Homo sapiens: one gene and its partners. The gene in region 1 interacts genetically with each later gene. Each region holds a gene or a part of one and is shown in the gene's direction. Other genes may lie near its edges. The genes, in order: CYP4F12, CAMK2G, MMP25 and CSNK1G2.

Region 1 (5,782 bases):
GCTTTTGTGTTAAATGGACACCTTCTCTCCTCTGGATGCCATCACTCAGGTCTCTTCAACAATGCCCAGGGTTCTGGCCTAGGGAGCTGTTGGGAGGGTGGTGGGACAGCTTTGGGCACTGTGATGCAGGTGAGCATCTGATACAAGCAGGTGCACGTTATATAGAGCACCTGGCACATAGTAGGTGCACCTTATGTAGAGCACCTGGCACACAGTAGGTGTACTTTATGTGGCGTACCTAGCACATAGTAGGTACACTTTATGCGGCATACCTGGCACACAGTAGGTGCTCTTTATGTAGCATATCTGGCACACAATAAGGCACACTTTATATAGTGTACCTGGCACACAGTATGTGTGCTTTATGTCAAGTATGTTGCACCGAGTAGTTTTACTTTATGTAGGGGACCTAACACACGGGAGAAGCATTTTATGTGGAACATCTGGCACACAGTAGGTGTGCTTTATTTAGAGCACCTGGCACACAGCAAGCATGGTTTATATAAAGGGCCAGGGACTCAAGATACAGGATTTGTGAAGGGCTCCCAGCATACAGTAGACAGTATTTATGTGGAGCTCCTGGCACACAGTAGGTGCACTATATGTAGAATAGCCAGCACACAGTAGACAAGATTTATGTAGATTACTTGATGCAGAGTAGGTGCGCTTTCTGTGGGTCACCAGGTACGTAGTACACATGCTCAATGTGGAGCACCTGACACACAGTAGGTATGCTTTATATACAGCACATGGCACAGAGTAGGCACGCTTTATATGAAGTACTCTGCATAAAGTAAGCTTACATTATGTACAGCATGCTGCACACAGTAGGTGAGCTTTATGTGGCATACCTGGCACATAGTAGACAGAATTTATGTACAGTATCTGATACACAGTAAGTGCACTTTATATAGTGAAACTGGCACACAGTAGGTGCACACAGTAGTGCTTTCCGTACAGTCTTTCGCATGGAGTAGAGACAGGCACACAGCAGCTCAAGTGCTAGTTGTCATCCCCTTCCCTTCAGTCCCTCTTTTTGGAGCTCCCTTTTCTTAGGAGCCTTCCTCCGTCGCCCTCTAAGGCCTCATCTGACATCCCATTTCCCAGATGGGAAGCCTGAGCCCAGGATGGCCACACTGCCCACAGTCAGAGAAAGGACAGGGCAGAACAAGGACTCCACTCGGGATCCCCTTGCTCTGCCCTCCCCTGCCTGGACCCCGTCAGCTCAAGGCCCCTCTCAGCCTCATCCCCTGTGCCTCCGCTCTGTCCTCCTAAGCTGAGCCCAGCTTCTAGGTTTGCTCCTCCAGCTGGGCTCTTTATCCCCAGAATCTGACGAAGGTAATCCTCAGCGGGGTTGGGGCTGGATTCTTTCTTCCTGCTTCAAGCAGTCAGGCCTCAACTCAGGCCCTGGGCTGCCAGGAGGCAGGACTTGAACTCTTGCCAGGCTGTGAAGCCAGAGATGAGAGGCTTCTGTCTCTGAATCTCCTAAGTCTGCACCAAGATGTAGTGCCTGACATCCTCCCCGCCCATGTTTGGAGAGGAGCCCAGATGATCTGGGACAAGGGTTGGCCTGGCCCAGCTCAGCTGGCTGCCAACTGTCATGATAAGTATATGCTTTTATCTGAACACCCTTGTCTTGGAAGGGCAGGGTGGAGGTAAACTTGGGGTTCAGAGTCCCCTCTAACCACCCTCCAACTTCCCCTGCAAACTCCCAAGAAGGTACTGAGACCTGAGAATTCAGTGCTCGTGCTGGGGCACCCTGAGCTGCACCCAGTGGGCCCAACCCCAGGTTTTGGCTGGCTGCCCAGGCACGGAAGACACACCCAGGCTGTGGGGATTGGCTGCCTCAGCCCAGCCCAGCCCAGCCCCGCCTCCTACGGCCTTCCCTAGATCAGGGGCCAGGGCCAAAGACCTCCCAGCAGAAGAGGAGAAGAGGTTGTGTGGGACAAGCTGCTCCCGACAGAAGGTACCAGGCTGGGGGTGGCAGGGCTGGAAGGTCCTGGCCTGGGATGAAGAGGGGACTGCCTAAGGCTGGGGTGGCTCCAAGATGCTGGCATGGGAAACTGGGGGTTTCCTGGTAACTGGACTCCTAGCAAACTCCCAAGGATTCAGGTGGGGCCCTTCTGGACTCTAATCGGCCCATCTCTTTCCCTTTCTGTGTGGTTACCAGGTTACTGGAGGCCACTTAGTTGTTGGTTTTGGTTGGGACTTTCTGGACTTCAGATCTCAGCCCTCGTTTACTCACCCCTGAGCCCTCCCTGCCCTGCCCCCAGCAGTTCCTGACTTCGCCCCTATACACTGTCCCCGGAGCTCTTCCCTGGGCCTCAGGTCCTCACCCTGCATCCCCTCTGCCCTGCAGGATGTCGCTGCTGAGCCTGCCCTGGCTGGGCCTCAGACCGGTGGCAACGTCCCCATGGCTACTCCTGCTGCTGGTTGTGGGCTCCTGGCTACTCGCCCGCATCCTGGCTTGGACCTATGCCTTCTATAACAACTGCCGCCGGCTCCAGTGTTTCCCACAGCCCCCAAAACGGAACTGGTTTTGGGGTCACCTGGGCCTGGTGAGTGTGACAGCAAAATGTGTCTGGGGTCTCAGGGTGGATGGACTTCCAGAGGAGCAGGAATGGGGCTCAGTGAGCTAGGTATTGATGGTGGCTGGGGTCTGCGACCCCAGAGAAGCAAGAGAGATGGCTCACTCATTCCTCTGCTAACTCACTCATTCCTCTACCCACTCACTCCTCTACCCACTCACTCACTCCTCTACCCACTCACTCACTCCTCTACCCACTCACTCATTCCTCTACCCACTCACTCATTCCTCTACCCACTCACTCCTCTACCCACTCACTCACTCCTCTACCCACTCACTCACTCCTCTCCTCACTCACTCATTCCTCTCCTCACTCACTCATTCCTCTACCCACTCACTCACTCCTTTCCTCACTCACTCACTCCTCTCCTCACTCACTCATTCCTCTCCTCACTCACTCATTCCTCTCCTCACTCACTCATTCCTCTACCCACTCACTCACTCCTCTACCCACTCACTCAATCCTCTACCCACTCACTCACTCCTCTACCCACTCACACATTGCCCTCCTCACTCACTCATTCCTCTCCTCACTCACTCATTCCCCTCCTCACTCATTCCTCTCCTCACTCACTCATTCCTCTACCCACTCACTCATTCCTCTCCTCACTCACTCATTCCTCTACCCACTCACTCATTCCTCTCCTCACTCACTCATTCCTCTCCTCACTCGCGCATTCCTCTCATTCGCGCATTCCTCTCATTCACTCATTCCTCTCCTCACTCACTCATTCCTCTCCTCACTCTTATTCGTCTGCTCACTCACTCATTCCTCTGCTCACTCATTCCTCTCCTCATTCACTCCTTCCCCTCATCACTCACTCATTCCTCTGCCCACTCACTCATTCCTCTACCCATTCACTTATTCCTCTATCCACTCACTTTTTGCTCTCCCCACTCACTCATTCCTCTCCTCACTCACTCATTCCTCTCCTCATTCACTGATTCCTCTACCCACCGACTCATTCCTTTCCTCATTCATTCATTCCTCTGCAGTTCCATGCCAAACCTTTCTCACCTCCCTGTCCTCCCACCTCAGCCTGCTTGGATCCTTTTCCTGCCTGTCTTCCCTACCGTAGTGCCCCTCCCAGAGGCTCCTGTATGGTTGTGGGGTGCACAGAGCAGGGCTCTCCTGGCATTCCCACCTTCTCCACTGCTGGACTTGAAGCCTTCTGAGCCCCGATAGACAGGCTGCTCCCTGCATGGCCCATTTGCTTGTATCTGCCCATCTCTGGGCTGCTGCTTTCCCGCAGGAATTATCTCTGACTTCCTTCCCCACGGAGGGACACAGCTGGACCAGAAGAGAAGTGCAGGCAGTCTCCCACACCCTCTCCTTCCAGGGACAATGTGCTCTTCCCCAGTAAGATGTCCCAGTGAGCCCTGTAGCCCAACCTGGATATAATTTGGCCACTCCCTTCCCCTTTCAGAAGCCGTCCTTGGTACTCCCAAACCTTTCCCTCCGACTGGGACCGGCCCTCCCCTTTGGGGGATGTGGCCTCTGTCTGCTCACTTACAAAAGGCAGGATTGATCGGTGTGTCCACAGGTGCACAGGAGGCACTAGCACAGAACCTGGCATAAGTGAGGCTCTCCTAGGTGGGAGCTGCCATCCTGATGGACATTAGAGTCACCTCTGCTCCCCTGGAGGCTGCTGAGAATGGAGGGCCCTCAGGACGCAGGCCCTTTGTCTGTGGGAGGAACCAGTGCCCATGTGGACCAACCAGGACACAAAAGGATATGGCAACCAGCTCTAGGGATATGTCCTGAGGCCACACTGCTGCCCACAAACCTCCTTCCATGGGGACCTTCCCATATAGCAATCCCCAGATTGAAATCAATCCAGGATGAGAAAACACATCCTCTTGAGCAGACAGCTTGTCTTCTCTCTCTGCTTTGGTATTTACCCTTGGATCTTGGGGACAGCTCCAAGAGAGAAGGAGCAGAAGTCAGCAGAAACCCACTGCAGCTGCTGAGAATCCAGACACGCTGCTCACTGCAGAGGCTGCACCACATCCGGTGGCTGTGGGGGGACTTGCTGTGGCTTCATCTAGGGAGGTGCATTAGTCAGGGTTCTCCCTAGAAACGGAATCTCCTTAGAAACAGATAGGGTGTTTCTTCTTATCTCTAATGCATGTATGTATGGAGACAGAAAGAGATAGAGAGATAAGAATTTATTATGGGAATTGGATAATGTGATGATGGAGGCCAAGAAGTCCCATGATATATCATCTGCAAGCCAGAAACCAGGGACACTGGTGGTGTAAATTCAGCCTGAGTCCAGAAAGGCCTGAGTCCCTGGAGTTCTGAGGGCAGGAGAAGACGGATATCCCAGCAGCAGAAGAGAGAGCAAGTTCTTCCTTTCCTCTGCCTTTTGTCCTGTTCATGCCCTCAATGGATTGGATGGGGTCTGGCGTCTCAGGGTGGGTGGACTTCCAGAGGGGTGGGACTTCCAGTAGGGGTTCAGGGAGCTGTGTATTGATGGTGGCTGGGGTCTGGGAACCCAGAGAACCAAGGGAGACGGCTCACTCATTCCTCTCCTCACTTACTCATTCCTGTGCCCATTCACTCATTCCTCTCCTCACTCACTCATTCTAATACCAACTCACTCATTCCTCTCCTCACTCACTCATTCCTCTCCTCACTCACTCATTCCTGTGCCCATTCACTCATTCCTCTCCTCACTCACTCATTCCTCTCCTCATTCAGTCATTCCTGTCCTCACTCACTCATTCCTTTTCTCACTCATTCATTCCTCTCCTCACCCACTCATTCCTCTGCCCACTCACTCATTCATATCCTCACTCACTCATTCCTCTACCCACACTCATTCCTCTCCTCACTAATTCCAATACCAACTCACTCATTCCTCTCCTCACTTACTCATTCCTCTATCCATTCACTCATTCCTCTCCTCACTCACTCATTCCTCTGCTCACTTAGTCATTCCTCTCCTCACTCAACTCATTCCTCACTCACTCATTCCTCTCCTCACTCACTCATTCCCCTCCTCACTCACTCATTTCTCTCCTCACTCATTCATTCCTTTACCCACTCACTCATTCCTCTACCCACTCACTCATTCCTCTCCTCACTCATTCCCTTCCTCCCATTCCTTTACCCACTCACTCATTCCTCTCCTCACTCACTCATTCCTCTCCTCACTTACTCATTCCTCTCCCCACTCACTCATTCCTCTC
Region 2 (5,251 bases), on another chromosome or scaffold:
GACAAAAGGCCTGGAGACTCCCTCCACTGCAGTGGCACCTTGGACACATTGCTGAGCCTCTGTTCCCTCCTAAGTATAGAGCTGGGCTTAAACCAGAGAATGTTGGAGTCCCCTTCCCGCTCTAATCTGATGTTCTGGCATTCTAAACATGACTGTTCTGTCTGTCTTTCCAAGTCTTTAAGTTGACACAGGTTCTGGAATAGCCGCAGGGCTTCTCCAACTCTGCCAGTCACAGCTTTAGGTACCACAGAGTATCCCAATTACAGGAGTTGAGTTGAAGACAGAACCAGTGTTGCAGGGTATGAAGCTCACCAATACCACATTCTTCTCCCTATTCCTGCTCCTTAGTTCCCATCACCAGAATGGGACACGGTAACTCCTGAAGCCAAGAACTTGATCAACCAGATGCTGACCATAAACCCAGCAAAGCGCATCACGGCTGACCAGGCTCTCAAGCACCCGTGGGTCTGTGTAAGTGTCTTTGCTAGTGGCCAAGGAGCTCAGGGGTGTCAGCCTTCTGTGTGCCCTCGGCACCACCCCCTCCTTCTTACCAGCAGAGATTCATTCTGGGCCCCAAGCAATAACTGAGCAGGCGGGCAGAGGACTGTTGAGGGCCAGGGTCAATAAATGTCACCAGGGAGACTCGGGAGGCTGATGGGGCTGGTGGGCCACTGCTCCTCTCTCCCCCACTCATGGCTGTCAGGCTGGGATTGGTTCTGTTCTTGGATGAGGGCTCAGGTTGACCCTTGTGGACTCCAGGTAGCCGGTGATAGAAAGCAGCTGGCAAAACCCAAAGTGAATTCCCAAGCTGGGGTTCATACTCAGATCTCAACTCCACTGGAGTGGTGACCAAGATCCAACAAATCAACAGAAGGGGTTTCTGAGTCATTAAAAGCATAAAAGCTGAGGCATAAAGCTTCTGCGCTAAAGTCCTAGGAGAGTCCTCTAGGCTATCAGTGTGGGTTGACGTACTCTGTTTTTATACACAATTCTTTCAAGCTGAAATATCAACTTTCAGACAAAGAAGAGGATTTGGTAGAGTTAGGCATCTTGACAACCACGAGGCATTATTTATCTGTCCATTCTGTGTTTATTAAATACCTCTTTGGTGCTGGTTACCGTCTGGGTGCTGGAGATACAAAGATGAATGAGGCATGGTCCCTGCCCCAAAAGATCATCTAGGGAGACAGGCACTCAAACAGGCAGTCATGTTACAATGTGACAAGTAGGTACAAGAATCTAATGAGAGTACAGGAGCTCCTACTGTTCCTGGTGGGTGGTGGGGTTACTGAAGGCTGCACGGAGGAGGTGACACCCCTGTGCTTGTTCTTGGCAAATAACGAGGTCCTCAGAACGTTAACCTGCAGACAGAGTTTAGCACAGTGAGAGGTTATGGGAAACTATGGTGAGTTGAAGGAATGTTGAGTTGTTTGGTTGTCGATGAGGCTGCAAATATCAGAATGCAAGAGAATGGGGCAAAAGATTCCCTGACATACAAGTTTCTGCCTCAGGAGTTTGGATTTTATTCTGAAAACATAGGGAATCATTTAAGGGTTTTAAAGAAGAATGAAATTTGCATTTAAGAACACTTTGGAAGTTGTGAGGAAATGAATTGCCAGGCATGGTGGCATGTGCCTGTAGTCTCAGCTGCTGGGGATGCTGAGGCAGGAGGATCATAAGCCCAGGAGTTTGAGGCTGCAGCGAGCTATGATTGCACCTGTGAATAGTCATTGTACTCCAGCCTGGGAAAGATGGTCAGACCCCACCTCTTTAAAAAAAAAAAAAAAAAAAGAAGGGAATTGAAAATTTTTAAAAGAAAAGGGCTGGAGACAGAGAGCTCAGGAAGCTTTTTTAATAGTTGGAATAGTCTAAGCAAGACCAGGTGAGGTCTCAGCAGAGGGTAAGGATGGGGGAATGTGCAGTGTGTTGAAATTCAAGAGATATTTGAGAGAACCTAAAGGATTTAATTCTCTCCAGTTGGATTTGGGGGGAGCAAAGAAGAGAGAGGCCAGGTTTCAAGTTGAGCGGAGAGTTGTACCCTCACTGACCCAGAAGAAAACCAGAGGAGGAGCTTGTTTGTGAGACAAGACGATGGTTTTCTCTTTTTTTTTTTTTTTTTGAGATGGAGTCTCGCTCTGTCGCCCAGGCTGGAGTGCAGTGGCGCGGTCTCACTGCAAGCTCTGCCTCCCGGGTTCATGCCATTCTCCTGCCTCAGCCTCCCGAGTAGCTGGGACTACAGGTGCCCGCCACCACGCCCGGCTAATTTTTTGTATTTTTAGTAGAGATGGGGTTTCACCGTGTTAGTCAGGATGGTTTCGATCTCCTGATCTCATGATCCACCCGCCTCGGCTTCCCAAAGTGCTGAGATTACAGGCATGAGCCACTGCGCCCGGCCAAGATGATGGTTTTCATTTTGTGCCTGCTGAGTCTGGCAACCTCCAGCCAGACACATTCAGTGGGTGGTTAGAAATATGGTCCTAGAGATTAGAAAAGAAGCTAAAAATTGGAAATCCACATTGTAGTCATTTCTGTGTAGTTGGTAGTGAGGCTGTAGAAATAGCCTCTTCCTATGCTGTAGATGGGCCTGTTCCTATGCTGGTTGAGTTCTTACGGTGAGCTTCTATTGGCTGTAGTAGAGAAGAGACGGCCACTACACACCAGCATTTAATGATAGGGAGAGTTAGGGGGCCCAGCAAAGAGCACTGAGAGTGAGACCTTCCAGAAGACCCAGAAGCTAAGAAACAGGGGGTCTCAGTAAGGGAGCGTCAGGAATCAGATGCAGAAGAGTCCCTGATTAAGTTGGGGAAGAATCCCCTGGCTCTGACCATTAGATGCCATTGTTTCATCATTTCACTGAGACAGTGGAGAGAAAGATGAAACCCTGTTTTCAGTGAGACGAAGAGGGAGTGAGGGTGAGGAGGGGCATGGGGAGCTAGGCATTGAGGTGGGAAATAAATGGTGATACTTAGATTAAGATGGGCCAGGGGAGCTTTTAATGTAAGGCTCACACCTGTAATCCCAGCACTTTGGGAGACCAAGGCAGGCGATCACTTGAGGCCACGAGTTCAAGACCAGCCTGGCCAACATAGTGAAACTCCATCTCTACTAAAAATACAAAAAATTAGCTGGGTATGTTGGTACACACCTATAATCCCAGCTACTTGGGAGGCTGAGGCATGAGAATCACTAGAACCCAGGAGGTGGAGGTTGCAGTGAGCCAAGATAATGACACTGCATTCCAGCCTGGGTGACAGAGGGAGACTCTGCCTCTAAAGAAGAAAAAATTTCTTTTTAAAGATTATATTGGTCAGGAGCGGTGGCTCACACCTGTAGTCCCAGCACTTTGGGAGACCAGGGTAGGTAGATCACTTGAGCCCGGAAGTTTGAGACCAGCCTGGGCAACATGGCAAAACCCCATCTCTACAAAAAAAAAAACTTTAAAAATTAGCTGGTTGTGGTAACGTGCCTTAGCTACTTGGGAGGCTGAGATGAGAGGATCACCTGAGCCTAGAGAGGTGGAGGTTGCAGTAAGCCATTATTGTGCTACTGCACTCCAGCCTGGGCAACAGAGTGAGATGCTGTTTCAAAAAAAAAAAAAAATTTTTTTGTTTAAGGAGAGGCTTAACTATAATCTATAGAGAAGAATCTAGTCCAGAGGAAAGAGTTGAAGATCCTTGCTAATTGAGGAAGCAAAGGTTTGGACAGCAGAAAAAGAGAGGGGGCTCCTGAGCCAAGGGCAGGGGGTCCATCCCGGGGATGACCATGATCCCCCTGAGACTTCTATTAGTGTGGAGGCAGGTGAAGATCGGCTTGTGAGTGGAAGTCTGAGCTGAAAGGGGTTCTTGCTGATGACCTCTCATTTTGCTTTTGGAGAAATTTACACCGAGGAGGAGGTAAAATGAGAGACTTGGGGAAGGTAGAGAAGGTGGGGAGAGTTGCCTCCGGACCTGGAAAGAGTGGGCCAAGGGTGAGGGAAAGGATGCGAGGAGGCCCCGTAGTGTTGGTGGGCACCTGGCTGCAGGTGCCAGGATTTGTTTTTCTGACAGGCTGGTGAAGACAGCAACAGCAAGGGGAGAGGGCAAGCAACCTGAAACAGGCACCCAAGAATGGGGGAAATATTCTGTTCTGGGGTCATTTTTGCAGGCCCTACCCTCTGCAGTCCCGTGTGTCTCGAGCCCCTGAGGACATCACTATATTCTGAAATTACATAATGATGCTGGTATTGACAGCTGAGTCATTGAGGAAGTGTAGACTGTGTCCCATGGACTCTGTTTAAGGAGGCCAGGAAGTTAGCAGTAAATACATTGAAGACAAATTTCCATCCAAAAAAGGCGGGGCACAGTGGCTCACACCTGTTATCCCAGGACTCTGGGAGGCCGAAGTGAGCAGATCACTTGAGGTCAGGAGTTCGAGACCACCAGCCTGGCCAACATGGCCAACCCTGTCTCTACTAAAAATACAAAAATTAGCTGGGTGTGGTGGGATGTGCCTGTAGTCCCAGCTACTCGGGAGGCCAAGACAGGAGAACCTGAGAGGCGGAGGCTACGGTGAGCCGAGATTGCACCACTGCACTCCAGCCTGACTGACAAAGCGAGACTCCATTGCAAAAAAAAAAAAAAATTACATCCAGAATGATGAAAAGAATTGATGCTTCAAGGTGACGATCCTTAGCTTCTGGGATCATGGCTTCATTCAGGACCTTGCTGGGGGTGTGTGGAGAGGGGCTCTTGGAAGGAAGGAATGTCCTCTGTAGAGAGCAGGAACCCTGCCGTTCTCTCGCTGCTGAGCATCTGGAACGCAGTAGGTGCTCAGTAAACAGCTGCCTAAGGAGTGACTGAATGAGGATCACAGCCCCCAGGGTACTCTCCTGTTCGGTAGCCTCTGTTTCCCAAGGAAGAATAGGACGGTCTCTCAGCAGCCCGTCTAGCATCCGTTATGGTGTTCTCACGTTCATGTTGTCCTTATGTAACCTTGAGTTTCGGGTAGTGCTTTTATTCTAAAAGCGTTTTCACATCTGTGACCTCATTTCATCTTCAGAGCAACTCTGGGGTGGCTGAGTGCATGACCCTGTCCTGGGCATGGTATCGGTGCCAGGACTGTGGGAGGCGCAGAGGATCTGGGCTGGGGCTCATAGCCTGTCTGTTTGGTTTCTAGCAACGATCCACGGTGGCATCCATGATGCATCGTCAGGAGACTGTGGAGTGTTTGCGCAAGTTCAATGCCCGGAGAAAACTGAAGGTGAGTGTCGTTT
Region 3 (4,084 bases), on another chromosome or scaffold:
GGTTGTGTAACTTCCCCCAGATGCATGGCGTGACAAGGGTGCAGGAAGGGGTGCAGGGCCCGGAAGCCCAGTATGGCCAAGGAGAGACAAGGCAGGGAAGAAGGTGAGAGATGAAAGATATCGCCCTGATTGAAACACCAAACTACCCCCAGTTTCTCAGAAAAAGGACTCAGAGCAACAAGAGAACCTACAGTCGACAGGGAAATTCGTCAGTGCGGATGTGATTTGAGCAAGACCATTGAAGCCCCTGCTGAAAGGCAGGCTGGCAGAGCCAGGGTACCTGGCCATCTACCTTGAAGTCTCTGTGCCTCAGTTTCCTCCTCTGTAAAATGGGCATAGGAGACAGGTTTGGTGAGAAGTGAACGAAAACGTGTTTGCTACCCCTCTTAGGTCTCACGTTTCATGCTTAGACGCTCAGCGAGTGGCTTTAGGGACCGAGAGAAATTTGCTTTTCAGTTCACCAGGTCGTTACCTATGAACCTGCCCTGAACAGTGCTGACCTTAGTTAGAGATGGCCATGAAACTCATCCGCATGGGGTAACTGGGGCCTCCCTGTGGTGCTGCGGGGCTGTGTCTCTGTCTTGGTCTCTTCAGGCCTCTCAGCAGCTGGAGCAGGAGCTGGCAGGCGGCTCACCGGTTGATGAGGAGCTGGGCTTCAGCCGGGGCTGGCGTGTGAATCCTCTGGGTCCTGGCAGTCCTGAGCGCCTGAGCTGAATACAGAGGGAAGAGGCTGGGAGCAAGGCCGGGTGCTGGGGCCGGCAGGCTGTGTTCTGAGAGTGCCTGCTAGAGGAGCTCTGTGTTCCCAAGGAGATGGAGGAAGACCTGGGGTGGGGGTGGTACAGGGTAGGGAGAGGAGGGGCAGAGGCTGTGAACAGGGAGATGGGGGAGGGGGGATGGAGGACTCAAGGGATGTAAGGGATATGGCTTGAGGAGGGATGGGGGCAGGAATGAGGGAAGGTCTTGGGTCAAGGACATGGACCTACATCCCCAGCAGATGGGGGTGGCAAGGGGGAGACGGGTGGGGGTCGCTGACTATAGACTGTAGCTGGGAGGAGGGGATGCTCCCAGGGCTGGGGCTGCCTGAAGAGAATGGCACGCACCTTGTAGGCTCCTGCCCTCACCCCACCGCCCTCTTAAGTTTCTTTTATTTTCTTTTTCTTTTTTTTTCTTTTTACTTTTTTTGAGACGGGGCCTTATTCTGTCCTCCAGGCTGGAGTGCAATGACATGGTCATGCGTCACTGCAGCCTCCACCTCCCGGGCTCCAGCGATTCTCCTGCCTCCCTGCCTCAGCCTGGGACCTGAGTAGCTGGGACCACAGGCATGCGCCACCACTCCTGGCCAATTTTTAAAATTTTTTTGTAGAGATGGGGATCTCCTTATGTTGTCCAGGCCAGTCTTGAACTCTTGGGCTCAAGCGATCCTCCCACCTGGGACTCCAAAAGTGCTGGGTTTACAGGCATGAGCCACCACACCCAGCTCCTCCCCCTCAAACTTCTGTGCACAAAGTGCTCCCTTCCCAGAGGAGGGGCCCCATCGGTGTGTAAGGTGGCCTATTCCTCTGTGTGTTCTCTGGATCTTTTCAGCCCTGTGGTCCAGTGTCCATCACAGCCATGCTGACTGAGTGACTGGAGACAGGGATGATGGAGAGTTCAGGAAGGGCTGGGCAGAGGAGGCTGGGGCCACCTCTGGAGGGTGTCCTGCTGTTCCTGTTGGCCCCAGCTGCACTCGCAGGGCCTTCCTGTGGCCCCTTTCCCCAAGCAGGGGCGGCCGCAGCTCTCACCCACTTTCTCCTGCAGACGGCGAGGGGACCGACCTGTTTGCCGTGGCTGTCCATGAGTTTGGCCACGCCCTGGGCCTGGGCCACTCCTCAGCCCCCAACTCCATTATGAGGCCCTTCTACCAGGGTCCGGTGGGCGACCCTGACAAGTACCGCCTGTCTCAGGATGACCGCGATGGCCTGCAGCAACTCTATGGTAGGGGGAGAGGGACCTGCCGCGAAACCATCATTGCCCCATCCAGTGTCCTCTGCAGCAGGGCCAGGGGACGCACACCTGCCTGACTCTTTCCTCACAGGGAAGGCGCCCCAAACCCCATATGACAAGCCCACAAGGAAACCCCTGGCTCCTCCGCCCCAGCCCCCGGCCTCGCCCACACACAGGTGAGTCCCCCACCAACTCGGAGACCTTGGGTGACCAGCTGCCCAGCCTCAGTGTCCTCTGAGATGGGGATGGTGGGGGTCCCTGCCTTGGAGAAAACAAACCCCCCTCTCTACTCACCTCTCCTTTCCTCCCCAGCCCATCCTTCCCCATCCCTGATCGATGTGAGGGCAATTTTGACGCCATCGCCAACATCCGAGGGGAAACTTTCTTCTTCAAAGGTGAGTCATTTCACTTGGCCTCATATATGTTGGTTTCCTGCCCACTTCCAGTGACCCACTGGGGCTGTGGGCTTACCCTGGAAGCGGAACTTTTTTCTTCTTTGAGACAGGGTCTTGCTTTGTTGCCTGGGCCGCAGTGCAGTGGTGTGATCATGGCTCACTGCAGCCTCAAAATACTGGGCTCAAGCGATCCTCCCACCTCAGCCTCCCTGGTAGCTGGGACCACAGGCACATGCCACCACGCCTTGCTAGTAATTTATTTTATTATTTTGTAGAGATGGAGTCTCACTATATTGCCCAGGCTGGGCTCAATCTCCTGGCTCAGGTGATTCTCCGGTGTCAGCCTCCCAATGTGCTGGCATTACAGGTCTGAGCCACCAGGCAAGGCCCTGGCACTTTTAGCGCTAAAAAGGGAAAAGTCTCAGGCGGGCCAGGATGGGCTGGTCACCCTAGATCCATTGCGCCCTTGATTTCCAGATGGGACCCCTCCCCACCCAGCCACACACCCTGGGGGAGGAGACCTCCTGCTGTCTCATGCCTTCCTGCGAACCCCTTTGTCCCCTGCAGGCCCCTGGTTCTGGCGCCTCCAGCCCTCCGGACAGCTGGTGTCCCCGCGACCCGCACGGCTGCACCGCTTCTGGGAGGGGCTGCCCGCCCAGGTGAGGGTGGTGCAGGCCGCCTATGCTCGGCACCGAGACGGCCGAATCCTCCTCTTTAGCGGTGAGTGGGGCCGGCGGCGGGGCGCGCTGGGGCCGGCGCGGGGAGCCCACCCCTGACCTCCCGGCCTCCACCCTGCAGGGCCCCAGTTCTGGGTGTTCCAGGACCGGCAGCTGGAGGGCGGGGCGCGGCCGCTCACGGAGCTGGGGCTGCCCCCGGGAGAGGAGGTGGACGCCGTGTTCTCGTGGCCACAGAACGGGAAGACCTACCTGGTCCGCGGCCGGCAGTACTGGCGCTACGACGAGGCGGCGGCGCGCCCGGACCCCGGCTACCCTCGCGACCTGAGCCTCTGGGAAGGCGCGCCCCCCTCCCCTGACGATGTCACCGTCAGCAACGCAGGTGGGGAGCGCGGTGACCTGCGGGTTACTGGGCCTGGGGGTGGGGAGAGGGATGTGGGGAATGGGGACATGGAGGCCACCCTGCGGGGATGGGGGTCCTTGGGCATCAGGGAGCGGCGGGGCGGGGAGGGACCGGGACTCAAGCTCTGCTCCTCCAGGTGACACCTACTTCTTCAAGGGCGCCCACTACTGGCGCTTCCCCAAGAACAGCATCAAGACCGAGCCGGACGCCCCCCAGCCCATGGGGCCCAACTGGCTGGACTGCCCCGCCCCGAGCTCTGGTCCCCGCGCCCCCAGGCCCCCCAAAGCGACCCCCGTGTCCGAAACCTGCGATTGTCAGTGCGAGCTCAACCAGGCCGCAGGACGTTGGCCTGCTCCCATCCCGCTGCTCCTCTTGCCCCTGCTGGTGGGGGGTGTAGCCTCCCGCTGATGGGGGGAGCCATCCAGACCGAACAGCGCCCTCCACGGCCGAGTCCCCCGCCGCTGGACCTGGTCGGGGGTTGTGAGGCGCTGCGGAGGCCCCTTGTCTGTTCCCACGGACGGGGGCTCGGGCGCGGACTAAGCAGGGGGGATCTCCCGCGCAGGGGCGGCGGCGGCGGGGACCGGTCGCCTGGCGCTGGGCTCAGTCTCCTCAGGGTCTGAGACCCCGGC
Region 4 (5,251 bases), about 14 Mb from region 1:
GGCCAACCATGTGTCCTGCAGGACCGTGCAGCGGGCAAATGGGGTGAGATGTTGGAGGAGCTGGCTCTGTTCCCTTCACCCCGGTGGGAGGCGAAACCCCAAGTGGTCTGTAGTGTCTGGATTTACTGTGCCTGCTGTGCCTTCGGACTTCCTTGTGTGTCTAGGGGCTTCCTGTCTGATTTGAACCTGTCTAGTTCCTCTGAAGAGGATGAGGGAGCAGCGCCTCATTGCCTGGGCTCTGGGCAGGTCTGGGAGCCAGGCCGTTTGCAGGATGGCCCGCGATGGTGCAGCACTTTGTGCAGACAGATTTTGTGGAATTGCCGATTTGGGTTTCTTCTTTTCTTCTCCTCCTTTTTAATAATACAGTAATTACTCTGGGCTACAAAGGAAGTAGGCGAGGGTTTTTTTAATTGAAAGTTCCTGTTGCTCATCCCAAGCTTAGGGGAAGCCAGTATGCCAGCCATTAATTTGGGGATTGGGGTAGTCCTGTTGGTGTGCCAGGCACGGTTGGGAGGGGGGGCACTGTGTCTTTTGGAACTGGTGGGGGTTACCGCGCGCCCGAGTGGCAGACTCTAGCGCCCCAGCAGATGCGTCCGCAGAGCCACTGGGACGGACGGAAGCTGAGCTTAGGGACAGCCGGAGTTGCTTGCCCTGGGGCATCTGGAGAGGGGGATCCTGTTGAGCGTTTGATGTTGCCTCCTTTCTGCACCCCCCACCGAGCTGCCCCAGGCCCCCAGGGGCTCATGGTCCGTCAAGGCCTTGACCGAGGCCTGGCGGAGGGCGGGTGGTGGATGGAGGCAGCGCTGTGGGTGCTGTTGGGGCCGAGTGCCGGGCACAGCCTGGCAGGGGCTGCGGGCCTCGGGTGGCAGTGGGCAGGCCAGCATGTGGGGCTGGCTGACTTTCTCTGAACCCAGAGGGGACACAGGGCCCATGTGAAGGAGGCCTGGCCCGAGTCCTGGTTAGGGTTGCGGTGGTGGCGGGCAGCTGTGGGCTTCGTCCTCAGGTCAGCCTCAAGTCCTGTGTCCAGCTAGGGCTCGGTGGCCGTGCGCGTGTTGGGTCGAGCTCTGGTGTCAGGCGTGCCGGGTCCGCCTCCCCCATCCCGCGGATCTGCAGATCTGCAAATGCTCCGCCGGCAGCCACACGAGAGAACCTGTTGGTTGGCGGCCTCTGTGCAAGGCCGTCTGAGTGAGGCCTGCAGTCTGGAGGCTCCCTAGGTCGGGAGGCTCCGCGTCTGCTTCTTCCTCATTCTGGAGTTCTCGTGGGGCCCGTGCTGTGGGGCTTCCTGGGAAGTGGGTGGAGCGCCCATTTTACAGATGAGGAAGTCGAGGCCTACCTGGCCTGCTTGGGTAGAGGAGAAGGTGGTGTTTCCCGAGGGCTGACTCCCACACCTGTGCTTCTCTGGTCACCCGCCGTGCCAGTGGGAGCAGTGACAGCGAGGGGTGGTGGCCCTGCGGCCAGGGGACGGGCCTCACCGCCTTCCCCATCCTCTCTGCTGGCTCTGTCCAGAGGGCTGTGCCGCCCTGTGACTGGCACGTGGGTGCAGCCGTCTGCTGGGTGGGTCTGTCCGGGAGCTTGACTGGCCTGGCTGGGTGGGGGGGGGTACCCCTTTGTGCTACCTCAGCGAGGGCTCAAAGTGAGGGTCTGGGACCACCAGAACGGTGTATTCAATGCACTGCGGGCAGCCCTGCAGCGGGCAGGGATTGAGTGAGGGGTGGGGCCTGCCTGGCTCCTGGCAAGCACCCGTCTGGCGGGCGGGGCCCAGTGAGCCTCCTCCCTTTGCCGGGTCCTCCTGTAGTGGGGCAGGAACCTCTAGCATCCCACCCTTGCTGCCCTTTTTCTGCCCCGCTCACCACCCACATCAACTTGTCACCAGCAAGGGCATGGGACAAAGCAGGACATGCCCCGGGTGGCCAGCGTGAGCTAGCTGTGCCCAGGAGCATTGCCCATGCTGTCCCCCAGGCACTGTCCTGAAGCCCTGCTGGGTTCTGAGTCCTCCAGGCTCCGCGGCCCCTTCTCGCCCTGCCCAGAGTCTCTGGCCACCACCGCTGCTTGGGGCCCTGCACCAGCCTGTGCGCCCGCAAGGTTGCCAGGGCCCCTCTGCAGGTGCAGCGTGAGCTGTGTCCTGGGCCCACAGGGGAGCCGCTTCTCAGACCCCCGGGCTGGCCCCAGGCTCCCCCGGCAGCACTCAGGCGGCCCTGGCCCCCGGTGCGGCTGACTGTTCGGGGCACGCGTCTGAGGTGTGGGGATCATCTCCCCCTTGCTCAGAGCCCCCAACGTGTCCCCTGCACAGGGAATCGGGGCAGCCCCCTGCCAGCCCTGCCCAGGGATCCCTCCTGTCACCCTCAGGCGTGCTCCTGGGTGGCCCAGCGGCCTCCCTGCACCGTGAGGCCCGAGACAGTTTCGCGTGACATCATGTTGAAAACAGCCAGCTCTGGCCGGGCGCGGGGGCTCCCACCTGTCATCCCAGCACTTTGGGAGGCCGAGGTGGGCGGATCACCTGAGGTCAGGAGTTCAAGACTAGTCTGGCCAACATGGCAAAACCCCATCTCCACTAAAAATACAAAAATTAGCCGGGCGTGGTGGCGTGCGCCCATAATCCCAGCTACTCGAGAGGCTGAGGCAGGAGAATCACTTGAACCCGGGAGGTGGAGGTTTTAGTGAGCCAGGATCGCGCCACTGCACTCCAGCCTGGGCAACAGAGCGAGACTCCGTCTCAAAAAAAAAAAAAAAAAAAGCTGGTTCTCCCTTGATGCGCATCTGCTGAACTTCTGGGGCACGCTGGGGTAGAGCAGTGGGTCCCTCCCTGGAGAGGCCATGGGGTGAGGACCGAAGCTGTGGGTGCCAAGTGGGGCAGGCAGCCCAGTGGAGTGGGGCAAGAGACTCTGGTCTGGCCGGCCTGACCCGTGGGGTATGACTCTTGTTACGGCAGATTCCATCTAGGAGCGGAGGCCACGCGTATGTTCCCGGGAGAGGTGGGAAGTGCATCCCGTGGCCTATCCCGGGGAGGTCACTCCCATTCCATACCTGCAGGGGGAGCTAGCTGCCTCACGTCTGTGTCTCAGGCCGCGCAGAGGAGGGGGCGCAGGTGAGGGCAGCGGGAAGAAAGACTGCAAGAGGCTCGGGGGTCACGGGCCAGGGCTGGCCCATCACTATTTATTCGTTTATTTATTTATTTATTTATTTTTTATTTATTTATTTTTTTTAAGATGGAGTCTTGCACTGTTGCCCAGGCTGGAGTGCAGTGGCCCGATCTCAGCTCACTGCAAGCTCCGCCTCTTGGGTTCACGCCATTCTCCTGCCTCAGCTTCCCGAGTAGCTGGGACTACAGGCGACCGCCACCACGCCTGGCTAGTTTTTTGTACTTTTAGTAGAGACGGGGTTTCACCGTGTTAGCCAGGATGGTCTCGATCTCCTGACCTCGTGATCTGCCCGCCTCGGCCTCCCAAAGTGCTGGGATTACAGGCGTGAGCCACCGCGCCCGGCTATTTATTTATTTATTTATTATTATTATTATTATTTTCTTTGAGATGGAGTCTCGCTCTGTTGCCCAGGCTAGAGTGCAGTGGCGCAATCTTGGCTCACTGCAAGCTCCGCCTCCCGGGTTCACGCCATTCTCCTGCCTCAGCCTCTCCAGCAGCTGGGACTACAGGTACATGCCATCACGCCTGGCTAATTTTTGTATTTTTAGTACAGACGGGGTTTCACTGTGTTAGCCAGGATGGTCTCCATCTCCTGACCTTGTGATCTGCCCGCCTCGGCCTCTCAAAGTGCTGGGATTACAGGCATGAGCCACTGTGCCCGGCCTATTCATTTATTTATTTAGAGACAGAGTCTCGCTCTGTTGTCCATGTTGGCCAAGCTGGTCTTGAACTCCTGACCTCAGGTGATCCACCTGCTTCAGCCTCCCTCATAGCTGGGATTACAGGCGTGAGCCACCGTGCCCGGCCCTATCGCTATTTAAAAGGCAGAGAAAATCTTAGAGGTTTTTTTATTGTCACCAGCGGTGTTTCGTTGATGCGTAATTGCCTTTGGAGGCTTGAAAAAAGTTGTGCTTAAAGGTAATCCCTCAATTATCTGGAAACTTCCACCCTCCAGAGTGAGGCACCCCAAGTCCTGGTCTGGATTCGTGGACAGAGTCCCTGCCTGTGAGGCCTGATGGCCAGTCCTCTCGCCTTGGCCGTGGTGCTTCAGGCCCTGTTGCAGGTGGGACCCGCCCTCCTTAGGGACCTTGTTTCCCAGGTGATGCTCATGTAATCTGCGGTGACCTCTGCCCCTTCCCATCTGACCTCTGTCCCCAGGAAAGATGGCAGGCGTGCGAGGGCTCATCCTGTCCGCGGCAGTTGTGCCCCTCGGGCTTCTGCTCCAGTGGTCCTGGGGCAGGGCAGCTGGCGCTGATGCCCAGGCTCTGCCTGGGGACAGTTCCCAGGACGGGAGCCTGAGGGCAGCGCACGGGACCAGCGTGAGGACACGGACTGGCCCGTGTCTGCCTCTGACTTGCTGGGTGTGCCTTTGAGTTCCTCTGAGGGTGGGTGCGCCGAGGGGGATCCAGCTGGGCCCTGGCCACGTGCAGGCCAGCCAGAGCCCTGGAGCCTGCAGGTGGGCTGGGACAGGGCTTGCGACCGCAGGGGTGGTGTGCGTTTGCGCTGGCGTCTGCACAGGTGTGTGCGTGCTGTGCCATCACGCTGGTCAGGCCTGTACGCCGTGGAGAGGGGCGCTGTGTGGGGCTCGCTGCCTGAGCCCTGGGTGGACCGTGGCTGCCCCATGAGTTGTCGGGGACCTCCGCTGCCCCTTGGACCTCGCCCGCGGCCCTGGGCAATGGGTGTGGTGACGTCCTGGGGCCCCCATGAGTCAGCTCGTCCTCGTGCCCGGGCACTGGCCTCTCCTTCCTGTGGGCGCACAGCCCCGGTTCCTCTGAAAGCTTCGTGGGCCGGGACCCGGGATGAGCTGGTTAAACCCTGGCCCTGTGAGCAGGAGGTGTGGCTTCGGGGGGCGGCCCCGCCCTGGGCTCAGACTTGATCCTGCACCGGAGGGAGCCATTCTGGAAGGCCGCTGCCCCGGGCCCTGTCCCTCCCCCTCTCATCCCCAGGGTGCTGGCCAGAGCCGGGCTCACAGCGTTTCTTAAAATTAACGATCCCGGCCGGGCGTGGTGGCTCACGCCTGTAATCCCAGCACTTTGGGAGGCCGAGGCGGGTGGATCACGAGGTCAGGAGATCGAGACCATCCTGGCTAACACAGTGAAACCCCGTCTCTA

What was found.
Region 2: changes in CYP4F12 (region 1) and CAMK2G together harm fitness more than expected from each alone (negative genetic interaction), as found in Homo sapiens cells (one large-scale study listed by BioGRID).
Region 3: changes in CYP4F12 (region 1) and MMP25 together harm fitness more than expected from each alone (negative genetic interaction), as found in Homo sapiens cells (one large-scale study listed by BioGRID).
Region 4: changes in CYP4F12 (region 1) and CSNK1G2 together harm fitness more than expected from each alone (negative genetic interaction), as found in Homo sapiens cells (one large-scale study listed by BioGRID).

What each region holds. Positions count from the first base shown.
Region 1 is NC_000019.10:15,671,170-15,676,951, forward strand, and holds the start of CYP4F12 (cytochrome P450 4F12), read left to right. Parts: upstream 1-1,917; 5' UTR 1,918-1,966; intron 1,967-2,359; 5' UTR 2,360-2,360; coding exon 2,361-2,558; intron 2,559-5,782. UniProt on the Homo sapiens protein: A cytochrome P450 monooxygenase involved in the metabolism of endogenous polyunsaturated fatty acids (PUFAs).
Region 2 is NC_000010.11:73,842,445-73,847,695, reverse strand, and holds part of CAMK2G (calcium/calmodulin-dependent protein kinase type II subunit gamma), read left to right. Parts: exon of another isoform or gene 1-348; coding exon 349-471; intron 472-5,154; coding exon 5,155-5,238; intron 5,239-5,251.
Region 3 is NC_000016.10:3,055,236-3,059,319, forward strand, and holds part of MMP25 (matrix metalloproteinase-25 preproprotein), read left to right. Parts: intron 1-20; coding exon of another isoform or gene 21-103; intron 104-500; exon of another isoform or gene 501-594; coding exon of another isoform or gene 595-714; intron 715-1,797; coding exon 1,798-1,974; exon of another isoform or gene 1,975-2,074; coding exon 2,075-2,159; exon of another isoform or gene 2,160-2,295; coding exon 2,296-2,378; exon of another isoform or gene 2,379-2,945; coding exon 2,946-3,098; exon of another isoform or gene 3,099-3,176; coding exon 3,177-3,434; exon of another isoform or gene 3,435-3,467; intron 3,468-3,591; coding exon 3,592-3,863; 3' UTR 3,864-4,084. UniProt on the Homo sapiens protein: May activate progelatinase A.
Region 4 is NC_000019.10:1,943,107-1,948,357, forward strand, and holds part of CSNK1G2 (casein kinase I), read left to right. Parts: intron 1-5,251. UniProt on the Homo sapiens protein: Serine/threonine-protein kinase. Casein kinases are operationally defined by their preferential utilization of acidic proteins such as caseins as substrates. It can phosphorylate a large number of proteins. Participates in Wnt signaling.